Regions from separate parts of the Homo sapiens genome. Here region 2 is linked to region 1. Evidence: fine-mapped expression QTL. Tissue or cell type: whole blood. Region 1 holds a variant in brackets; the other region holds the start of a gene. All regions are shown on one strand. Distances are between the middles of the regions.

The links. PIP is the estimated chance that this variant, and not a neighbour inherited with it, causes the effect.
Region 2: MANEA starts here. The variant in region 1 is fine-mapped to the expression of MANEA in whole blood (INTERVAL, PIP above 0.99).

Annotation. Positions count from the first base shown.
Region 1 is chr6:95,599,066-95,601,980 of GRCh38, reverse strand. The region is part of intron 3 of MANEA (mannosidase endo-alpha); the gene reads right to left. Among named protein-coding and RNA genes, the nearest start is that of MANEA, 23 kb to the right of the region's middle. The variant G/A (reference allele first, on the strand shown) is at 1,474.
Region 2 is chr6:95,576,068-95,578,982 of GRCh38, reverse strand. MANEA (mannosidase endo-alpha) reads right to left here and starts at 1,448. Exons shown (of 5, transcript NM_024641.4): 1 at 1,345-1,448. MANEA-DT (MANEA divergent transcript) reads left to right here and starts at 1,532. Exons shown (of 3, transcript NR_104136.1): 1 at 1,532-1,890. RefSeq lists enhancers at 849-948, 412-1,352 and silencers at 1,149-1,208, 1,489-1,578, 1,629-1,708.

The DNA of each region.
Region 1 (2,915 bases):
GACATACTTATATTCATGTTTCACATGGTTGAAATCTGCATAAGCCTGAAAAGCAGATAAAATGACTCTAGAGCCATATGCAAAGAAATAATGGATGTTGATAAACCTAGTATAAGAAATGTGATTTCTGCATAAAGTAGAAAGAAAATATGCTACTTTAAAATAACATACTAAATTTATTAAAATGAAAGAAGATCACCAGGGCTGAGTTGGTTCTTTCCCCTATAATCCTAAGCAAAAAAAAAAAAAAAAAAAAAAAAAAAATCACTGAATCTGCCTAATTTTCTTTTACTTAGATGAATGATTTAATTCAGTCAAGTTTTGATTAGATAATGCCATGTAACAACCCCACAATCTCAGTGGCTCTAAAAGACAAACATTTGCTTTTCGAACATAAAATCTATGAACTGGCTTATGATGGTTCTGCTCCAGGCTGGTTCAAATCAGCTCCACGTGTCTGTCATTCTGAGTCCTAGGCAGAAAGGGGCATGCTTTTCTTATAAAAGAGAATAAGAGCATAATCATGCAAGCACATAGTATACATTATCTCTTCTCACATCTCATCAGCCAAAGCAAGCCATAAGGCCAAACCCAACAACAACAGGGCAGGAAGTATACTTACTCTTTGCATGCAGGGGAAGGAAAACCAGATTATTTGCTAAACAATGACGGAATCTACCAAATATTTCTGTCATGTCTTACTCAAAAAATTGTTCCGTTGCTGTGTTCTTAATGGTGCAGGATATAGAGGAAGGAATCCAGCCCTGATTTTTACACTCTCTGCAAAACCAGCCTACTAAATGACAGTTATAAGTGCAACAGCCTTTGCTCTAGCAAACATGCAGACAAGTATACTTTAAAAGAACAGAAACTAAATCGCTTTGAAAAATCAAGATTTAAATTTTAGTTTCACTCATTTACACTTCCAAAAAAAAACCTAGTCACATTTGCTAAAGATAATGAAAAATAACTAAAGCACCAATCATTTCCTTTTCTTGCATGTTTGTTTATAATTTAAAAGGCACTTACTTAAAATAACTCTTGGTTGAAGTTAACAAATCAAAATTACAATTACAAAATATTTAATGACTAATATTAGTAAAAACATTATATAATCAAAATGAATGAACTATAACAAAAGTTTAACTGTGAGACGGATTCATTCCCTAAAAATTCTCCATCCATTTAGTATTTCCATGCTTTGAAGACTAGCAAGAAAAAAGAGATGTTACTAATGAACGCATTTTACACTTAAAAGTTTTAGATGTGGTCAGTTATGTGCATTGGAGGCTCCAATTTGTCAGCACACAATCTACAACATCATTAATCTTTTCCTATCAGATTGCCTTAGCACACTGAATAATTCTAGTAAGGTACTGTCATTCATTAAACATATTAAAATTTCCTTATATTAGCAAGAAAAGGGAAAGTTTTCCATTCTTTAAAAAAACAGGATTTACTGCATTTTATTGA[G/A]TTAGGAAAAATGTCTGTTCCACAACAACAGAAATCATAGACAAATCCAATAAAACTATCTTATGGTTTCATTGTCATTGTACAAATGAAGGGGATAAGCCAAGAAGATCAAGGAACTAATATAAGATTCCAGAGCTACTCAGTTAGAACAAGCTCCAGTCTCATGATTCCAGGTCTATTCTTTGTCTATACATAGTTCCTCACCATACACGAGGCCAAGAAACTGTTCTAAAAATTTTGGAAAACATTAGTCTATCGTGTTCCAAGTTTTTCTGATCATTAGATATAAAATCCCTAGCACAGAGAGATCAAGTATGCTGGCAACATTAAATAGGCAATTAGTGGTCGAGCTCTTTGCCACACTCTCCTTCTCTACACAGACACTTTAAACAGGAGAAAAAGCCAACCAATCCTCATATATCATAACATTTTCATTTTCTCTTTCAAAACTTCCTGAAAGTACTAAAATAGCCAGTTTCTTGAGCTTCCATCTTCCAGGATTTTGGCAGGGCCTGGACAGAAAAGCAGCTCTTGGGCTTGTTTTGTGGAAGATAAATCAATCACTTACCCAACCTCAGCCTGGGCACCAGAACCTGGAGGCTTGCCTATTTGCAGATTTCAAATGCCAATAAGAACTCACTGAAAGGCACCAAGGGACATGGCAGGTGACAGCTCTTGCTAGACAGCTAATTTGAGAGATGCTGTCTTAACAGTTTCAGGATAGTAAATCAGAAAGAAGAGGCAGCTTTATGGACAGAAATAAAAAAATGCTTGCCTATTTAGCTCTTTCTCACTCCCTACAGTTCCATTTCTATTCTCCAATAACTACTCAATCTCTAGGCTGCAAAAGGAAAATTAAGACAAAACTAATGTTTCACATTTTTATTTGAAACGAAATATTTCAACAGTGGTCCATAACATATCTTACAGGGCTCAATTACCAGTATTGGACAAACCAGATTGTCCTCCATTAGAATATAACTGCAAGAAGTTACAGAGCAAATAAAAAGCTTCAGCAAATTTTAAGAGTGGTTGCAATCTCAGAGTGGTCTCTAGTTAAAAGAACCTACATCACTTTTTTTTTTTTTTTTGAGATAGACTCTCACTCTGTCGCCCAGGCTGGAGTGCAGTGGCACCAATCTCAGCTCACTGCAATCTCTGCCTCCCAGGTTCAAGCAATTCTCATGCCTCAGCCTCCTGAGTAGTAGCTGGGACTACAGGTGTAGTATATCCATCAGATATAGTGTTTGAAATAAGATACTAAGAGACACCCTTTATCAAGCTAAAGAACTTTGGTTACTAAGGACTTCATTAACAATGAATTTTTATTTCCTAAAATTTTCAGTATCTCTTAAGATAACCATGTTTTACCTTCTTTAAATAATCAATGAAGTTTTATTTACTTAGTGCTTACTCTGTGCCAGACAGCAATCTATGTTTTA
Region 2 (2,915 bases), 23 kb after region 1:
ATCACCTAGCAAGGAGCAGATCGAGTCTGGCTCAAGAACTCAAGTTCTTGTCCATGCTATTCTGCCTTCCTTTAAGGTATTAGACAAATCAAATTTAGAGGATACACCAGTTATTTTTGTGACACAAGATGAAAGCTGCTGCTATATGGTTATGTTTTCAATTAAGGATTATGTACCTAATAAACAATGATTAACTGTTACCTACTCCATAAACTGTGCCCAAACTTCATCTAAAGACAGCTTATTCTATTTTATGATCATACATTCACTATTCGTCACACGAATAACAGCAACAGCTCTGGAAATGGTGTTTTCATTGTTGTGATTTTTTGTTTTGGGGGGTGTTTTTCTGCATTGAGCCTGAAAATCCACAAATTCACAGCACTCATGTTTTTTTCAGGTGTGATACACCTGAAATAGATGTATTGTCATGAAAGTGATTTGCAAACAACGTGATACAGTATCACCAATATCTAGGTTTTACTTTATATTTTTGTTTCAAACTACTGCCTCAATACTTTAACGTGAACAGCCTATTCCAGTCCCATTTTTCTTATTTTCAAGTTCTTAATCAACATTATCCCCCCCTTGTTGTTGTTTTATAGCACTTCCACATTTTCTCCTAACACTTATCCGTAGGGTCTTACAACAACAAAACCAAACAGTTATACCTGCCTGTACTTCAAGTTGCTTCTTTGGAAAAAGGAACAACAAAAACACTAATCCAGCACTGTTGCATCCCGACTTAGCAAAGGCTAAGAGTCTAAGATGACAGTGCCAAACACGTTAACAGGTGAACTGAAAAACCATCTCTAGCGGCCTCGCCATCGGGCGGTCTCCTCCCGATGCCCAGAGGCGACAGCTACCTTTCCGTTGCACCCAGAGCCCAGCAGGCCTCGATCCTTCTACTCTCCCGGTCGGCTCAAGGCCCAGAGGCAGTCTGGGGGCACAAGGAGAAGGTGCTGAAAAAGGCTTCCATCCGACCCGAAATTTCCACCTTGTCGGGGAGACAAGGAAAATCCGAGGCGACAGGAGGTACCGTTTCAAAGAGGAGGCGGCGACGAGGCCAGTGAGGTGGGGATAAAGCAGTGTAAAAGGCAGTAAAACTAACGCAGACTAAAACAGGCCTAAGAGTGACAGCCTAGGTTAATCGAGGGGGCTACAGGCTCGCCGCTGGGCGCCACCAGCGCCTGCCAGAGGGGCGCCGGGTCAAAGGGCGCCCGGAGGAAAGCGGCCACCAGATTGGCTGGCGGGCGAGCGCGCAGGCGCCCGCGGTGGACCTCGTGCCTGCCGCCGCTGCTGGCGCCGCCGCCTCCAAGAGGTCTGACTCCTGCAGCTACTCACCAGGGTCGGGTAATTCACTTCTTGCAAGGACTCGGCCAGAGGAGAGGTTAAGACCGCGAACATAGAGCTGACTGCCGCCGCGCCCCGAGCCCAGACAGCCCCTCCTCCCCGAAGGCGCGCGCACAGCGTTCCGGGCGCTTTCAGGGGCGGGACGGGTGGGGGCGGGGTCACGGAGCGGGCGGGGCTCGGGGTCTTCCGGAGCCTCCGGTCGCGGGTCTAAGAGGACTAGGGCGGGAGCGGCGCGGAAGAAAGAGAGGACTGCGTTTTGGGGCGTTCTGTCAGAGGGGAAGGACGTGTGGATTGGAGTCAGACTGCACTCCCGCCCTATTTCTGCAAGTAGAACTCACTGCCTTTAGAAACGGTCTTCTGAGGCTCTGTTGGGAGGCTCTAACTGTATTACAGAGGACACATTTTTGTTTGTTTTTATGTGAAACATTCAGAAGTTGCTTGCATCAAGTGCTTTACAAGTACACTGGTTTTCAAACTTTTAAAGTTGAGGAACTGTTTTGATTTTTGTAAAAATAGAACTTTACTTGGAAGCCCAAGGTAGGCAGATGGAGATGGCGTTTTTAATTTGCGAATGTATTCTATAAAATCACATCTGTACTGAAGTACTAGAAATAATTGAGGATAAGTCAGATGTGAAGAGCAAGAACTTTTGAAATAGGATTACAACTGAAGGTTTCCATCTTACATTAGCTTCAGAAAACAAGAAAATGCTATCTTTTGTTTGGTTACATAGTAACAGGAAGTCCTTATTCAAGCTAGAACTTGCTGATGTGAACAGTTTCATAAGGGCTCTCCTTAAAAAGATTTTGTACACCAATTTTAATTGGGAAATATACATATGAGTATATCTCATGTGCATATCTTAAAGAAGAATGAAAAATGCCCAGGTACCCACTACAGAGCTTAAGAAAAAAAAAATGCCAGTATTTTTGGAGTCTTCTAGAAAGAAGACTCTCTAAAAACATCTCCTTCCTTCCGTTCACCATTATGCTGAATTTTATATTACTCATTCCGTTGTATTTCTGAAAATAGTTACATATGTACGATTCCCTAAAAATACTATTTTCCTAGTTTTATATTTCATATGTGAATCATTCTTCATTTTTCCCCTTTTTTCACTAATTTAGGTTTTGAGAGGTTTTGAGATTCGTCTGTATACAAGTCCATTTCCCATAAACTAGACTGGCACATCGTTACCCTTATGCTATTGTTAGACTTTTTAAGTTTTTGCTGATAAGAGCATCTGATTGCTCTTTTAATTTGCATTTTCCCTTTTGCTAAAGCCTGTTCTTAATTTTATCTCATTTTTTATTAAATTGCTTGCTTTTGAAAATTATTTTGTAGATAATATTTATTTTTTCTAGTTTAATTCTCTCTTGTAAGTTACATGTGTTGCAAATGTCTTCTCTTAGTTTATGGACTGTCTTTCCAGTTTTTATGATGTTTCTTGATTGCCAAAAGCTTTATGCTTCAGTATACAGCTTTTTGAATTTAATAATATTTTACATTTTAATTTTGTGCTTTTTGCTTTCTTGCTTACAAGATTCTTCCCAACATAACAT